4 linked regions of the Homo sapiens genome follow. The protein of the gene in region 1 purifies or fractionates together with the protein of each later gene. This does not show direct contact. Each region holds a gene or a part of one and is shown in the gene's direction. Other genes may lie near its edges.

Evidence for each region.
Region 2: the proteins of RAB2B (region 1) and USP46 purify together in Homo sapiens (co-immunoprecipitation; one large-scale study listed by IntAct). This does not show direct contact.
Region 3: the proteins of RAB2B (region 1) and SCARB2 purify together in Homo sapiens (co-immunoprecipitation; 2 studies listed by BioGRID and IntAct, with this or other methods). This does not show direct contact.
Region 4: the proteins of RAB2B (region 1) and MTHFD2L purify together in Homo sapiens (affinity purification with mass spectrometry; one large-scale study listed by BioGRID and IntAct). This does not show direct contact.

Annotation. Positions count from the first base shown.
Region 1 is NC_000014.9:21,466,960-21,470,459, reverse strand, and holds part of RAB2B (ras-related protein Rab-2B), read left to right. Parts: intron 1-1,243; exon of another isoform or gene 1,244-1,251; coding exon of another isoform or gene 1,252-1,274; intron 1,275-1,280; exon of another isoform or gene 1,281-1,367; coding exon of another isoform or gene 1,368-1,418; intron 1,419-1,707; coding exon 1,708-1,790; intron 1,791-2,010; coding exon 2,011-2,103; intron 2,104-3,500. UniProt on the Homo sapiens protein: The small GTPases Rab are key regulators of intracellular membrane trafficking, from the formation of transport vesicles to their fusion with membranes. Rabs cycle between active GTP-bound and inactive GDP-bound states.
Region 2 is NC_000004.12:52,603,802-52,607,301, reverse strand, and holds part of USP46 (ubiquitin carboxyl-terminal hydrolase 46), read left to right. Parts: intron 1-2,717; coding exon 2,718-2,801; intron 2,802-3,500. UniProt on the Homo sapiens protein: Deubiquitinating enzyme that plays a role in behavior, possibly by regulating GABA action. May act by mediating the deubiquitination of GAD1/GAD67.
Region 3 is NC_000004.12:76,168,825-76,172,324, reverse strand, and holds part of SCARB2 (lysosome membrane protein 2), read left to right. Parts: intron 1-2,339; coding exon 2,340-2,458; intron 2,459-3,500.
Region 4 is NC_000004.12:74,156,639-74,160,938, forward strand, and holds the start of MTHFD2L (bifunctional methylenetetrahydrofolate dehydrogenase/cyclohydrolase 2, mitochondrial), read left to right. Parts: upstream 1-1,500; coding exon 1,501-1,643; intron 1,644-3,416; coding exon of another isoform or gene 3,417-3,510; exon of another isoform or gene 3,511-4,300. UniProt on the Homo sapiens protein: Bifunctional mitochondrial folate-interconverting enzyme that has both NAD/NADP-dependent methylenetetrahydrofolate dehydrogenase and methenyltetrahydrofolate cyclohydrolase activities.

The DNA of each region.
Region 1 (3,500 bases):
GAGTTAGTATACTGGAATTCTCTTCTCACCTACAAACCCCAGTTTAGGTTATATGATATAGTGGCTAAGAGGACAAGTTTTTGTCCTAGGAAGTACTAAGATCCTAAGTTTAAATTATGGCTCTAGCACTTAATAAGCTTTATGATTTGGGGCCGTTTATTAAACTTGTGTGAGCCTCATTTTCCCCATTTTTAAAAGGAAATAATAAGCCAGGCACGGTGGCTCATGCCTGTAATCCCAGCACTTTGGGAGGCCGAGGCGGGTGGGTCATGAGGTCAGGAGTTCAAGACCAGCCTAGCCAACATAGTGAAAACCCATCTCTACCAAAAATACAAAAAAATTAGCCAGGCATGGTGGTGGGCGCCTGTAATCCCAGCTAATTGGGAGGCTGAAGCAAGGAGAATTGCTTGAACCTGGGAGGCGGAGGTTGCAGTGAGCCAAGATTGCGCCACTGCACTCCAGCCCGGGCAACAGAGCGAGACTCCCTCTCAAAAAAAAAAAGAAAAAAAAAAAGGGAATAATAATATCGGCCCCAGGGTTGCTAAGAGAAGTAAATGAAATAATATATGTAATTGTCTCTTAAAGTTCGTAGCACATTTTATATGCCAAAAAGTAGTTTATAGTACTATTGCAGTGTTATAATTAGTGTTACCACTGTTACTGGTATTATACTATGAGAAAGCCATTTATTTTCCCACATCCTTAATCATGATTCTCCCATTTGTAACCTATAAATTATAGTCTTACCTCCTGTTATGTAGGGATGTAAGGATAAATTATTTCAAGAATGTGAAAACTTTCTTAATAGGATAGATTCAATGTACAGGGTATTCATATTATTTAAAAAATGTTTTTGTTTTCCCTAAAGGAAAAAAAAAGAACTAGTCCATCAAGAAAGCAAAAGTACCCAGTATTATGGGGGCATTAATAAATTACTCAGTTTTAAATAGAACTTAATATCTTTGTCCAACTGGAAATGAGATTAGAGTGTGAACATTTGGATTTTTCTAGGAAAACTCTATGCTGGGCCCTGGGCTTCTTTCTCTGTTTGTTATTCCTATTTCCCATGACAGAAGCCCAGCAAGGGACATCTAGGTAGTCTTGCATTATCAGTGGAACACTAAAGGTCAGTTAGAAGATAATCAGTTGAAGTGCTTTTAATCTAATTTTTATATTGATTCATTGGAATGAAATTTCTATTAGACCAGGTTTTGGCATTCTAAGATAACTTTCCTTTTTACAGATAAAGAAATGGGAACAGAAAGATTAATATGGTGTGTTCAATATCATATTTGGGATTGAAAAAAATGACATACACTCCGTTTCCAGTCCTATTTCCAGTTGTTCTTTTATGAGGATATTGGGAAATGTATGCAAATGTCTTCATCGTCTTTATCGTGCTGACTGGGGTGCCACAGGTATTTAGTGACTGGGATCTAGGATGCTAAACATCCACTAATCTGATGGACAGTCTCTCAGGAAGAGTAAGTGACTGCCCAAAATATCAATGCACTCCCATAGAAAAATATTGATTTCCCACTTGGGTTTCTTCTCGGGCAGGCATGTTTTCTTTCCCTAATTCTCTTTTCGTAATAGAAATTCTTTTTTTAGTTAAGTCCTTTGTATTAGGGTGGCATGTGATCAAGTCGGTTCTGTGGAAATAACCTGGTTTTGTTGGGATTTTTTGTTGCCATGTTGGTGGGAAAGGCTGGGCAAGAATCCTTCCGTTCTATCACCCGTTCCTACTACAGGGGAGCAGCTGGAGCACTGCTGGTGTACGACATTACAAGGTGAGCCAGATCTGGTGCATGGGAGGGAGATTCTTCCCTAAATCCTCTAAAGCTTTTTTTTTTTTTCTATCTACTGATTCTGTTAAGGATGTTAACTAGGAATGGCCTCTCTAATATTTTTCTTTACACGTATGGCTTCCCCTCTTTTCGTATACGCTTGGAGTTGTTTTGGCCTTTTGAAATGTGTCTCTGACCCACATTCTAAATTTTTCTGCTGTAGGCGTGAAACCTTCAACCACCTGACCTCATGGTTAGAGGATGCCCGGCAGCACTCTAGTTCCAACATGGTTATCATGCTCATTGGGAATAAGAGGTAAAATTGTATCCATGTGAATAATAGTTAACAGGAGTCATCTAGGTACTCTATGCACATTGATCCCCAAACTTTCTCAGTTTATAGTGGTCTTAGTGTTTCAGTAAAAAAAAAAAATTTTGTTGTGATAAAATATATATGACACAAAATTTACCATTTTAACTATTTTTAAGCATACAGTCCTGTAGCATTAAGAATATCCATTGTTCCACAGCCATCACCAACATCCATCTCCAGAACTTTTTCATCTTCTCAAACTCTATACACATTCAACACTAACTCTCCATCTTCCCTCCCCCATCCCCCTCATCCCTCAGCCCCTGACAGCCATCATTCTACTTTATGAATTTGACTACTACTGGTACCTCATACAAGTAGACTCATGTAATATTTGTGCTTTTGTGACTGGCTTATTTCACTTAGCATAATGTCTTCGAGGTTTATCCATATTGTAGCATGTGTCAGAATTTCCTTCCTTTTTAAAGATGAGTAATATTCATTGTATGCATATACCACAATATTTTGTTTATCCATCTGTCCATGGACACTTGGGTTGCTGCCATCCTTTGACTATTGTGAATAATGCTGCTATGAACATGGATCTGTTCAAGTCCCAGCTCTGAATTCTTTTGGGTATATGCCCAGAAGTGGGATTGCTGGATCATATGGTAATTCTTTTATTTTTTGAAGAACCACCATACCATTTTCCATAGCAGCTGTCTCATTTTACATTCTTTCCAGCAATGTACAAGGATTCCAGTTTCTCTACATCCTTAACAACACTGGTTATTATCAGTAAATTTTTTTTGACACCCATAGGCCAAAAGAAATACCTAATAGTTTTGTTAAATAGTTATACCCAAACAACATGAGTATTTTTTATAACCGCTTAGTAACTGTTTGAAAATAAAAAGGCCAGGCGCAGTGGCGTATGCCTGTAATCCCAGCTCTGGAAGGATTGCTTGAGTCCATAAGTTCAAGACCAGCCTGGGCAACATAGTGAGACCTTGTTTATACAAAAAAATTTTTAAATGAGGTGGGAGGATCACTTGGGCCTGTGAGGTCGAGGCTGCAATGAAGCTGTAATTGTACCACTGCACTCCTGCCTCAGCAACAGGAGTGAGACCCTATATAAAAAAAAGAAAAAATATGCCAGGCGTGGTGGCTCAAGCCCGTAATCCTAGCACTTTGGGAGGCCGAGGTGGGTAGATTAGAAAGTCAGGAGTTCAAGACCAGCCTGGCCAATATGGTGAAACCCCGTCTGTACTGAAAAAATACAAAAAGTAGCCAGGCGTGGTGGCACGCACCTCTAGTCCCAGCTATTTGGGAGCTTGAGGCAGGAGAATTGCTTGAACTCGGGAGGCGGAGGTTGCAGTGAGCTGAGATAGTGCCACTGC
Region 2 (3,500 bases), on another chromosome or scaffold:
TCCTCGCCTTCTCCTAACTTACCTTCATTTTCTAATTCTCAACTCATGGATGCCCTAAGAGCATTACTCTGTCAGCAAGCTTCTTTGTAAAATGGGTCTTTACATTAGGTATTAACTTCTGCTATATTTCCACCTGTCTGGGTCTACAAATCAAATAAGTTTTTGGGGAAAATAAGAATGAGTAGGAATGAATGATTCCTTATTTGTTGCTGGCCTTTCTTTGGCTATTGTGACCCTTTAGCTTGGTAGTACAGCTTCTCTGCAGTAGACATTGGGAGGATATGAAGCTCCATCACACCCACACTCATCTCCCTGCCTCTGGCTCCCCGTTCCACTCCAGTCAATCCCATGCAGCCAAAACAAGATTCCACAGCACTTACTCAATTGAAGTATTCATTCAGCTAAGTATGAGTTTGTTTTATGCACCATGTACTTGAAATCTGAAAGTTTAGTACATTTGCATTCTAATGGCTTTCTTGCCTTTCATCCCTCTCCAATGCCCCCTCCACCATGCTGTCAAAAGTGGAATTTCTAAAAAGCACTACCTGATTATGTCGTTTCTTTGTTGAGACTGTTGGTTAGGGTTCATGCTGGCTTCTTGGTAGCATAGTCCAGGCTATGTGACTTGCTGCCTGATATGGTTTGGCTGTGTCTGCACCCAAATCTCATTGGATTGTAATAATTCCCACGTGTTAAAGGTGGGGCCAGGCGGAGATAATTGAATCATGGGAGCAGTTTTTCCCATACTATTCTCGTGGTAGTGAATGAGTCTCACAAGATCTGATGGTTTTATAAATGGGAGTTCCCCTGCACCTGCTGTCTCTTGTCTGCTGCCATGTAAGACATGACTTTGCTCCTCCTTTGCCTTCTGCCATGATTGTGAGGCCTCCCCAGCTATGTGAAACTGTGAGTTCATTAAACCTCTTTTTCTTTATAAATTACCCAGTCTCAGGTATGTCTTTATTAGCAGCATGAGAACAGACTAATACGTCACCGCTGCTGTTCCCTACCTCCAGGCCTCTGCACTGCAGTGTTCTCTCTCAGGAGTCATTGACCCTTATTCACTTGTTCACCTGGCACACTTTCCCTCTTTCTCTGTGCTTTCTCCTGGACTTTACACCTGCTTCTGTCTTGGTTGGTTCATTCATTCAACCAACAAATATTAATGTGTTCCATTGTGTGTCATGCTGGGGATATAGGAATGACAAGTGCACTGCCCACATAGAGGGGAGGCAAGTAATCAAATGAACAGAGGAATGGTTTCAGATGCTGGGAAGAAATAAGACGGCAATGTGATAGGGGCTGGATAGGCTTGGACAAAGTGGCCAGAGAAGTTTTCTCCAAAGAGGGGATGTTTAGGCTGAGTGCTGAACAACCGGGTTAGCCAGCCATGGAAGCCTCTGGGAGGAAGCTCTCAGTGCTGAGAAAATAGCACCTGCAATCACCCTAAGGTGAGAAGAGGATTTCCCAGGGCCAGTGTGGCTGGAGCAGAGAGAAGGAGGCAGGGTGGATAAGTGCACTGGAAACTGCTGGAGGATTTCAGCAGGGGAATCATGTAATGCTTTCTGTTGAAGCTGCACTGATCATTTCATGTTGTCAGTGGTTCATTTGCACACATCTCTGTTAAAGTGTGAGCCGTATGAAGGCAGTTATTCTCTGTGGATCCCCAGAACCTAGCCCAGAGGACTGGCAGGAAACATTTGGGGACTTAATGAATGAAAGAATCTGTGTTTTCTTTTGATGTGTTCTGTGTAAGTGGTAGAATCATTTAACACATTTTAAATAACATTTTCTGTTTAATAAAATCTGGTCATTATGGTACTAGGACACTGAACAAGGAAATGCCCCAGAATTTTTCAAAACTATAGGGTATTAGTCCAGATGTTCTTTTCAGCCTTTGAAGCAGTACCACAGAAATGTTAAGTAGAATCTTGATGGCTGGAAAAGAATGAAAAACCATGACATTTAAAAAATAAAAACCGTAAGTAGCAGAGTAGAACCTCATGATAAGGCAGATACACATATGACAAACACAATGGCTTTTGTTCTCCAAAGGAGGCAGGCAAAAGTTCATCTCCTCCGGCGGGGGAGCAGTGGGGAGCAGGGGTTGGTAGGAGGTGGTCATCTGATTAATTCAGGATTTCTTTAGTTCACTAAGAGGGCAGTTTTGTATGTGGTTTAAATTTCATTATCTTTACTTTCATGCTCTTTGAAAATATGGACTACCAGAGAAATACTATTTTTCATTAACTACACAATAATGTCACCTTGCATGTTATGTGATTTACTTTCTGGATCTAAGTTTTAGTGTTTACGGTGAACTTTTACTCAACAGTATTTTTCTATTACGATTTTAATTTCTAGCTTATAGGTATTCTCCATTAAATCATGAGTTTTTTTTCTGAATCCAGTTGGAAACCCTAATTTATATCTGCCTGTGTCCCATTAAATAAAACTATATTTGAATCTCTCATGGTAAATTCATGATTCGATGAAAAGAGCATGTCTACCACCGTAATGGCACCCAGTCTTAGCTTATTTTTGTTTTTCATCCTGTAGTTTCTCTACCATCCTAGTCTTAAGTAGGATTTTTTTCTGATTACTTCTTCTTCCATTTTTACTTAAAAATTACCCTACAGGTTAATTGAGGGATTTAAAACATAGTATACCAAGTAGATTTGGACATTTTTTAAAGATGGAAATATTTTCCTCTACAGAGACTTCAGCAACACAGAAACACTGTGTAGTGAACAAAAATATTATTGTGAAACATGCTGCAGCAAACAAGAAGCCCAGAAAAGGTAGGTAAAGATTTAGCTCAGGGTTATCTTTGTGTGGTGAGAAGGATCCCGACTGTGGGGCCCAGCAGGGTTGGCTTTGAATCAATCTCAGCTACCTGGGCTTGTAGCCATGGAGCCTTGGGGAAGTCAGTTATCCTCCTCACCAGTGAAACTGGGATAAGAACGCTGACCTTGGAGAGAACAACTTGGAGAGTTGTCTGTCCGATTGTTTACTTATTTGTTTATTCATTCAGTCATTCAGCAAATATTTGTTGAGCCCTGCCATGTGCCAGATATTATGCTAGATAAACAAGTAATGATTAAATATAATCACTATTCTCTTGAGATTAAAGGTAAATTATATAAAGTACTTAGCAGAGTATATAACACATAGTAGACACCCAATATTATTTTTGTTTGTATTGCTTAAACATTAGGACCTCTTATTTAGAGACAGAGGTTTAAAAAATATATATCATTTCATAAGGACTCATGAGGAAATTATTAACACATCAGTTATAAGAATAGGTGATTAGAGGCTGGGCACAGTGGCTCACACCTATAATCCCAGCATTTTGGGAGGCCAAGACAGGCCGATCATTTGAGGTCAGGAGTTTGAGACCAGCCTGGCCAACATGGTGAAACCCCGTCTCTACTAAAAACACAAAAATTAGCTGGGCATGGTGCCAGGTGCCTATGATCCCACCTACTCGGGAGGCT
Region 3 (3,500 bases), on another chromosome or scaffold:
ACTGCACTCCAGCCTGGGCAACAGAGTGAGACCTGGTCTCAAAAAACAAAAAAATTATATATATATAAAAAATTGTTTATATATACGTATATCATATATATGTGTATATATACATATATATATACAACTGACAAAAGTATTTTTCATCTTGAAGACTAGTTTTAACAGCCACATGTATATATTTATGTATGTATATGTTAATATATTTGTTAATATATGAGTATATTAACAAATTTTATAGTTATATATAAATATGCATATATTTGCATATACTTATATTTGCTATATTTTAATATATATGTATATAGTATATATATATAGGTATACACACACACGTGCGCAAGTGTGCACACACACTCATGGTGCACACACATGCATGTATGTCCCAGGGTCCCATGTTGGATATACCAGGGCCCCAGAATCTACACTTTTAACAAGTACTCCAGCTGATTTCCATAAAGATGGCGTCTAGGTATTTGGGGACCATTGTGCAAGGGAACATGGTACCCTTTACCTGGAGATAAAGACCAAGGGTGAATGGGAACAAGTTCCTGGTTGTGATCTCCCCCATTGCCTTACTGGTAATAGTCCTGAAACAGTGTCCCTGCCCCCTCATCTGGTGTGCATCTGGCTCAAAGCAAAAATGTAGATATATTTTCTCTTGCTGTTTTTATTAAATTCTGTTTCCTTAAGAAGCTGATGCCAGAATCAACAGAAGTATTCTACTTTACACATTTAAACTTCTTGCTACAATCCTTTTCCTCTTCCCTCTTAACGTATTCCCGAATTTGGACTGAAGTGAAACTCCCCAGGATTATCCTCCAGTGTTTTGAATTCTCCAGGGAAACATTTTGGATAGCAGGATGAGTGTTCTGGAGTCAGGCAGATTGGGTTTGAGTCCTATTCTATTTGTTGGTAAATTGGCCAAAGTTTATTAAGGAGGGTTCCAGACATCAGTTTTCTCATTAATAAAATGGAGGTGGTTATAGCTTCTTGAGGTTGTGTGAGAGTTAGAAATAATATATATAAAACACTCAGGACAGTAGCCCCTATTAAGCCCTCAACAGATTTAAAAAATACATTTTCAAGGTCATTATAGGTCACAAAGAAGGAAGTCATGCCTTTGTGGAACTATTCAGCAGTAAACAGCAAAATGCATGTGCATGTGAGAGATGAGGGATGAGTTCCTTAAGCCATGGGCTGGTGAATATGTAAGCAAATTTAAATAACTTGCCGACAAGCTCCTTTCTCCAAAAATGTATTTCCCTGGCAGCAATTGTTGGGTCCCTCTCTTCTTTTCAATAGCCAGATCTAGAATAGGTTTCCTTTAGTAACTTGTTTCCCTATTTGGTTATATATATATATATATATATATATATTTAAATTTACATAAGCACTTATTTGGTTCTTAAAATGAATAGGAAAGGAAAAACCCCAGAATCTTTGTGATCTGGTTAGAGGCTGGGTGTATAGCACAACCAGGCTAACTCTTAAAAAATTATGTAGGCCAGGTGTGGTGGCTCAAGCCTGTAATCTCAGCACTTTGGGAGGCTGAGGCGGGCAGATCACTTGAGGTAAGGAGTTCAAGACCAGCCTTGCCAACATGGTGAAACGCTGTCTCTACTAAAAATACAAAAAAATTATCCGGGTGTGGTGGTGCATGCCTGTAGTCCCAGCTACTTGGGAGGCTGAGGCAGGAGAATTGCTTGAACCTGGGAGGCGGAGGCTGCAGTGAGCTGAGATTATGCCTGTCTTTGGTAAAAACAAAACAAAACAAAACAAAAAACCACCAAAAATTTTTTTTTAATTTTAAAAAGGACAAGAAATAAAAAGTCAGTCCACTTACTGATAGAGAATTGTAGTTGAAACTAGTGCTTTGAGGTACAACACCCTTCATTCACTTAGTATTCTGCCTTCATAGCCTGATGGCTAGCTGTCCCTGGGTAAATTTTGTAACTTCTATGAACCTCACTTTCTTCAAATGCAAAGTGAGGCTAATAGTTCTGACTTTACTGGGCTGTTGGGAGCATTAAATAAAATAATGTGTATGAAGCACTTATACTTTAACTTCAGTAAATATTTGTTGAAGAATAAATAATTTAGCCTGAACTTCAATATATAATGTGGAATAAAAAATTGGGGGTAAATGAGATGTCAGAAAATGAAGTATAAATCCTGAACTAGGAGGTAAAGGATGGTGTTTTAGCCTACCCAAGTTAATTTATATGTAGCTTTTTTGTTTTTCTTTAGGAACCAGGCTGTGGCCAGGAACTTTTATATTCAGCTCAGCTTAGATTTTAAAAACAGCATCATTCATTTCTGTTTTCCTTCAAATGCAGGTGCACCCATCATTATGTCTTTCCCACACTTTTACCAAGCAGATGAGAGGTTTGTTTCTGCCATAGAAGGCATGCACCCAAATCAGGAAGACCATGAGACATTTGTGGACATTAATCCTGTGAGTACATACTTCCTCCTGGTAAAAGAGCATATGTTTTATTCTGTCTATACATTGTTCACCAGTTTAGTCCTGAGCCTTCTTTAAAAATATCCTTACTTTCATATACATATTCAAGTGGGAGAAATTCAGCTCAGTGCTGATGGAGGCATTGTCTCATAGCCCTGTAATTAGAAGGCTGAATTTTGTGGATTGAATAGCAGAAATACGAGCAAACCTGCCTTTAACAAAAAGCAACAGTGAAAACTCAGTTATTGGAAACTACTGATGTACCCATATAACCTGGTCAATCTTCTGATGCTAGCCTTGGACCTCAACATATATTTATTTCTCCCCTTGGGACACAGATCGATAAGGTTAAAGATGTCCCTTTGCTTCCTCACTGCCAGGAATATTTTGGTTGAAATATGAATATGTATATTAACCTCAGTCACTTTTGGCAAACTTCTTTCTACAGGTTATTTGAGAGTTTATTATATTATTAATTGTAAAGGTATCAGATATACATAGAGGAGACATACACACGTGTGTGTGTGTGTGTGTGTGTGTATAATACACATTTACTCCTGTATTCATAGACGAGAAAAACAAAAACCATGCTAACCATGTCTTCATTTTTGGAATTTGAACATTATGGACCAATAAAAAAAAAAAACAAGAACATTCTTTTAGCACAGTATTTTATGGGTACTTCACACTCTTAGCTGCATACATTGCATTTGTATCTGAGAAACCAGTGATCTTATGCTCTGGTGAATAAAATCGTGTGTGGTTTTCTCCCTTTTCTCTTAGCCATCAGCTGATCAGTTCCCTTGGATCAGCCAAACTGTTAGCAGTGCTTGTCACCAAGGGACGAACACAGTCTTATAACCTTAGTGCAAAGATGGAGCTGCCCTAAGGATGACAAGTGCTGCAGCTGTGCCCCATGGCTACGCTAGGCGGGCCCTATACTAGGATGCCACTCTCTGGCAGTGACCACCACCCTCTTCTTAGCTCTCTGGACAACTGCCTGGAAATCCAGACCTGACAGGCTATCTTTTAG
Region 4 (4,300 bases), on another chromosome or scaffold:
TCCAAAGTGACTGAATCATTTTTTTATTCACCAACAATGAATGAGAGTTCCTGTTGCCACACATCCTTGCCAGCATTTCGTATTATCAATTTTTTGGACTTCAGCGGTTCTAATGGGAGTGTAGTGGTATCTCACTGTTGTTTTAATTTGTATTTCCTTAATGATAAATGATATTGAATATTTTTCCATTTTTTTTGACCTCTGTATGCCTTTTTTGGTGGGTGTTTTCAGATCTTTTGCTCACTTTTAACTGAGTTGCTTTTCTTTTTTCTTTAATTGTTGAGTTTCAAGAGTTCTTCGTATATTTTGGGTGTAAGTCTTGTAAAAATGTTTTGCGAATATTTTCTCCCAGTATGTGATTTGTTTCTTTATTAACAGTGTCTTTTGCATGGCAGAAGTTTAAATTGTTTTTTTCTTTTATGAATTGTGATTTAAGTGTTTTATCTAAAGTCTCATTGCCAAACCCAAGGTCACCTAGATTTTTTCCTGTATTTTCTTCTAGGCTGCTTATTTGTGTCAAATGGATTTAGATCAGCCAGGAAAGAGTAGGGTATCCCATTCTTATTGATATGATTTTAAAGAGCATATTTTCTGACAGTCTATGATTTTAAAAAACAAGTTTTCTCAGTAAAAGTGCAGCTATGAAAGACGTTGTTCTGACTCAACAGCAGCAGCCTGACCTTGGGAGAAAAGTTGTTTCCTGTTAACTTCCCAGCTGGTTTTATCTGTGACTGTTTTTTGTGTGTCTGTCTTAATTTGCAAAATGAATGGACAGTCTAATGTTTTACTTTTTCAGAGGGAGCAGATATTTTGCTTCCTCACCACACAAGCTCACCACACAATGCAGGGTTCTTAGCCTGCATCGACTTGATCATAACTCAGGAAAAGACAGATATTGGTCAATATTTCCTTCCAAAAGTGGAGATGATAAAGTAGAAGTATAGAAATCCTAAAGTCCAGACCTTCCTTGTTCAGCCAGGTTTTGCTCCTTCTCCACACACCTTTGTTCTTTTCTCCAACTTCCAAGGAATCTCACAAAGGAAGTGGGAAACAATGAACCTATTACTTCTTTCCTGCTTTAAATCCAATTCCACGTAGTCACGGAGACTGTTGGGCAGGATCTCTGGCTTGGTGGAAAGTGGGGCGTGCTGCCTAAAGTGATAGTTTGGAGGCCTTCTCTGTGCCGTCGCTATGGGAATGCCAGCTATATGTTGGCTGGGTGCGGGGCCCAGTCGCCAGGCCACACTGCACGCTTCCACATCCTCAGAGGGCCCGGGACTTGGGTCCTGGCCCCGCCCCCTGCGGACCCGGCACTCTGTCAGTTCCGTCCCCGGTCCTGGGAACCGCTCTTTACCCCACTCTGCGTGTCTGCCGGAACCTGGCTGGGAAGCGCTACTTGCTGCCCTGCCAGCCCGGGTGAGGGCGGAGCCAGGCCTCCAGCCGCGAGGACTGGAGTCGCGGGAGGTGGAGCCCCAGTCCGGAAGCCGGGGATCCGCGGCCATGACGGTGCCGGTCCGCGGCTTCTCGCTGCTCCGCGGCCGCCTTGGCCGAGCGCCGGCGTTGGGCAGAAGCACAGCACCCTCCGTAAGGGCACCGGGAGAGCCCGGGAGTGCGTTCCGGGGCTTTCGGAGCAGCGGTGTGAGGTACGAGGGCTGCGGGCGCCGGGTGCGGAGCCGCTGGCGGTGGGAGGTCGGCGGGGGCGCGGGCGGCGCTCGCGCGCGTGGGGCCCAAGGCTCGTGGGCGGCCGCGCGGCGGCGGGCTGGGTCGAGGACAGCCTTGTCTGTGAGGTGGCCTTGCCGGTCGCGCGGGCGAGTCGCAGTTGCCTCAGCTTGGGGAACGAAAACGTGCTCTGCTCTGGGCTCTCGCACCAGAATGTTCCATCTTTGCAGCAGGTGCACTTGATTTAGGAAGACATTTGAGGCACTAAGAAAAGGTAGTATAAAAACACGTGGTCGGCTTGGTCAAACATTTGTTTTTACTTTGGTTATTTTAGTGTTTCGTAAATAAAGGAGTAGGCGTTGTGCAGATGACTTACTAATGTTTGCGTTTCTGAATTCCTTTGTTAATAGTGTTGTCTAAGTCTTTTCCAACTCTAAAATTATTTATGGTTTCACAAAACCAAATATCAATCCAGATTTCTCAGTCTTTTCATGTATGGCTCTCCCTCCCTAAACCTCTGTCAGGTGATGAGACTTAGATTCATTACATGTCTTGGTTGCTGGCAAGAACCATGCAAATACAACAGGGTACGCACTCTTCTATCTTATGCTTTACCAGTCTTAGTTGCAAAATCCGTCTTAACAAGATGAAAATATATCTTCTTGACCCAGAGCTTGTGAGTCCAGAAGAGCCTCTGTTTTCAGACTTTCAGGGCTTCCAGAAATGCGCTTTCATTGCCATTTTACGTCCAAAATTGTGTCTCACTCGAGTTTTTGTATCCGCCAGTGCCCAGCACAATCCCTAGAAAAGCAATGACTGGTAACGTGGAAACTTAGATACTGTTTATTTAATTTAAATCAGTTAACTCCCTATTGTGTACATTTAGATCTTAGTCTCGAGTGTCTGAATTTAAAAATTACTTCCTATAGGATTTGCTTTGGACATAATTTCTTGTGACTAGGTCTTCCACAAGGATATGTGAGAAAATAACAGTGAATCAGAGTTGTGTAAGCTGTAGTAGGTTGGGTAAGAATGTTCCACTTAGTTTGGAACTACCAGCTAGATCTACTACCTAGGAAAAGCAGATTCTGTAGAATTCTATTTGTTTTAAAGAATTGAGGAAATTATTTGCCGTCACTCTAAATTACTTGTTTGTATCATTATTTTTTGAATTTCAGTTGTTTTAGGGGTGCTTTTCAGGGTGAGGATAACTTGTTTCAAATAGTACAACTTGATTAATTTCCCTGTCAGCTTGCTGTAAACAACTCCATCTCCCCATCTTCTCCATGACCTGCATACATTGAATGGAAGTCATTACAAACAACAGTTACAACCCCAAAATTTGGTTGTAGCCCCTTGCTTTGTACACACACACCAACTCATGTAGAATTCAAAACTTTTAAGTTACACATAATGACCTCTTTATAATTTAAAATAGTTGAGTGCAAAGGTTTTGGAAAGCTATTATCCCTATGCACTGTAAGAGTTACTAATTTCAGCCCGGCTGCTTTCAGTTCCACTTGATGCAGATTATAGTTATAAAAAAAGTAATATATTTTGATAGTTTTTATTTTTTAAAGAGGGCACTAGGCAAGTTAAGATAAGGCGGGGGTTTTGACGCCCTCTTTGTACTGAATACCATCTCTGAAGGTGAGGTTGGCCCCAAGGTTGAGAAACACCTGTGGACTGGTGGGTCTCGGGTGGGGAGGAATTCGGACAGTGTGTTGATGCTTATTGGTGTCTCTTTTCTCTTCTAGGACCAGCAGAGAGAAGAGATTCCATCTTCCAGAGGTTGCCACTGTCTGCCTCCCCACTTGTCCCCATCCACAGTCATCTTTTTTATATATATAATGACACATTAGTTGTCTAGTTCTTCATAGTTAATGTGGTTTAAGTCTGACATCTTTTCTTTTGCCATGAAATTTACACCTTAGTGTTATTCTCACTGAAAATTGCCTTTGAGTTTGATAAACTCTTATCCCAGTGATATTGACTGTTTTAAATTAACAGATTTATCACCATTTCTGAGCTGTGTAGGGCCTTAATTGAAAAAGTATCTTTGATTATTTTTTCACATTTTGGCCACATGCCTATAATAATGGAATATTTACAGTACTTTTTAGTGGAGAACTTTTTTAAGTAGAATTTCAATAATTAATGTTTGATGGAGTTTGGAAGTTACCGTATTTTGAAGTATCGTTTAACATTCTTCTCTCAATGAGTTTTCCTTTAAAATTTGCAGTGAATTTGTTTTCCTGTTTATGCATGAGAATTTAGGTCTTATTAATTGGGGGAAATTAATGTTAAAGTAATAAATAAGCCCTTGTTGCAGCTTATTGTTTCTTGAAATGAATTAACTATCCAGGCAAAAGGTTAAAAATGAAAAAAAAAGTCTTTGTAACTAAATTTTTCCCATTTTGTTGTGGTATTTGAGGAGTTTACAAATCAAAATGTCCTGGGTTAAAAGGCATCACATGAGTTTGTGCCCATTGCTTTTCAGTGTGAGGAGTCTGATAGCAGCCCATCCCATTTGGGTGGGAAGGTTATAGACCTTGCACATTAATGCCATGCTCAAAGCAGATTTGCAGGTATCCTGCAACACAGGGACTTTCACAAAACCCGCTTTGGCTTATTCTACCTG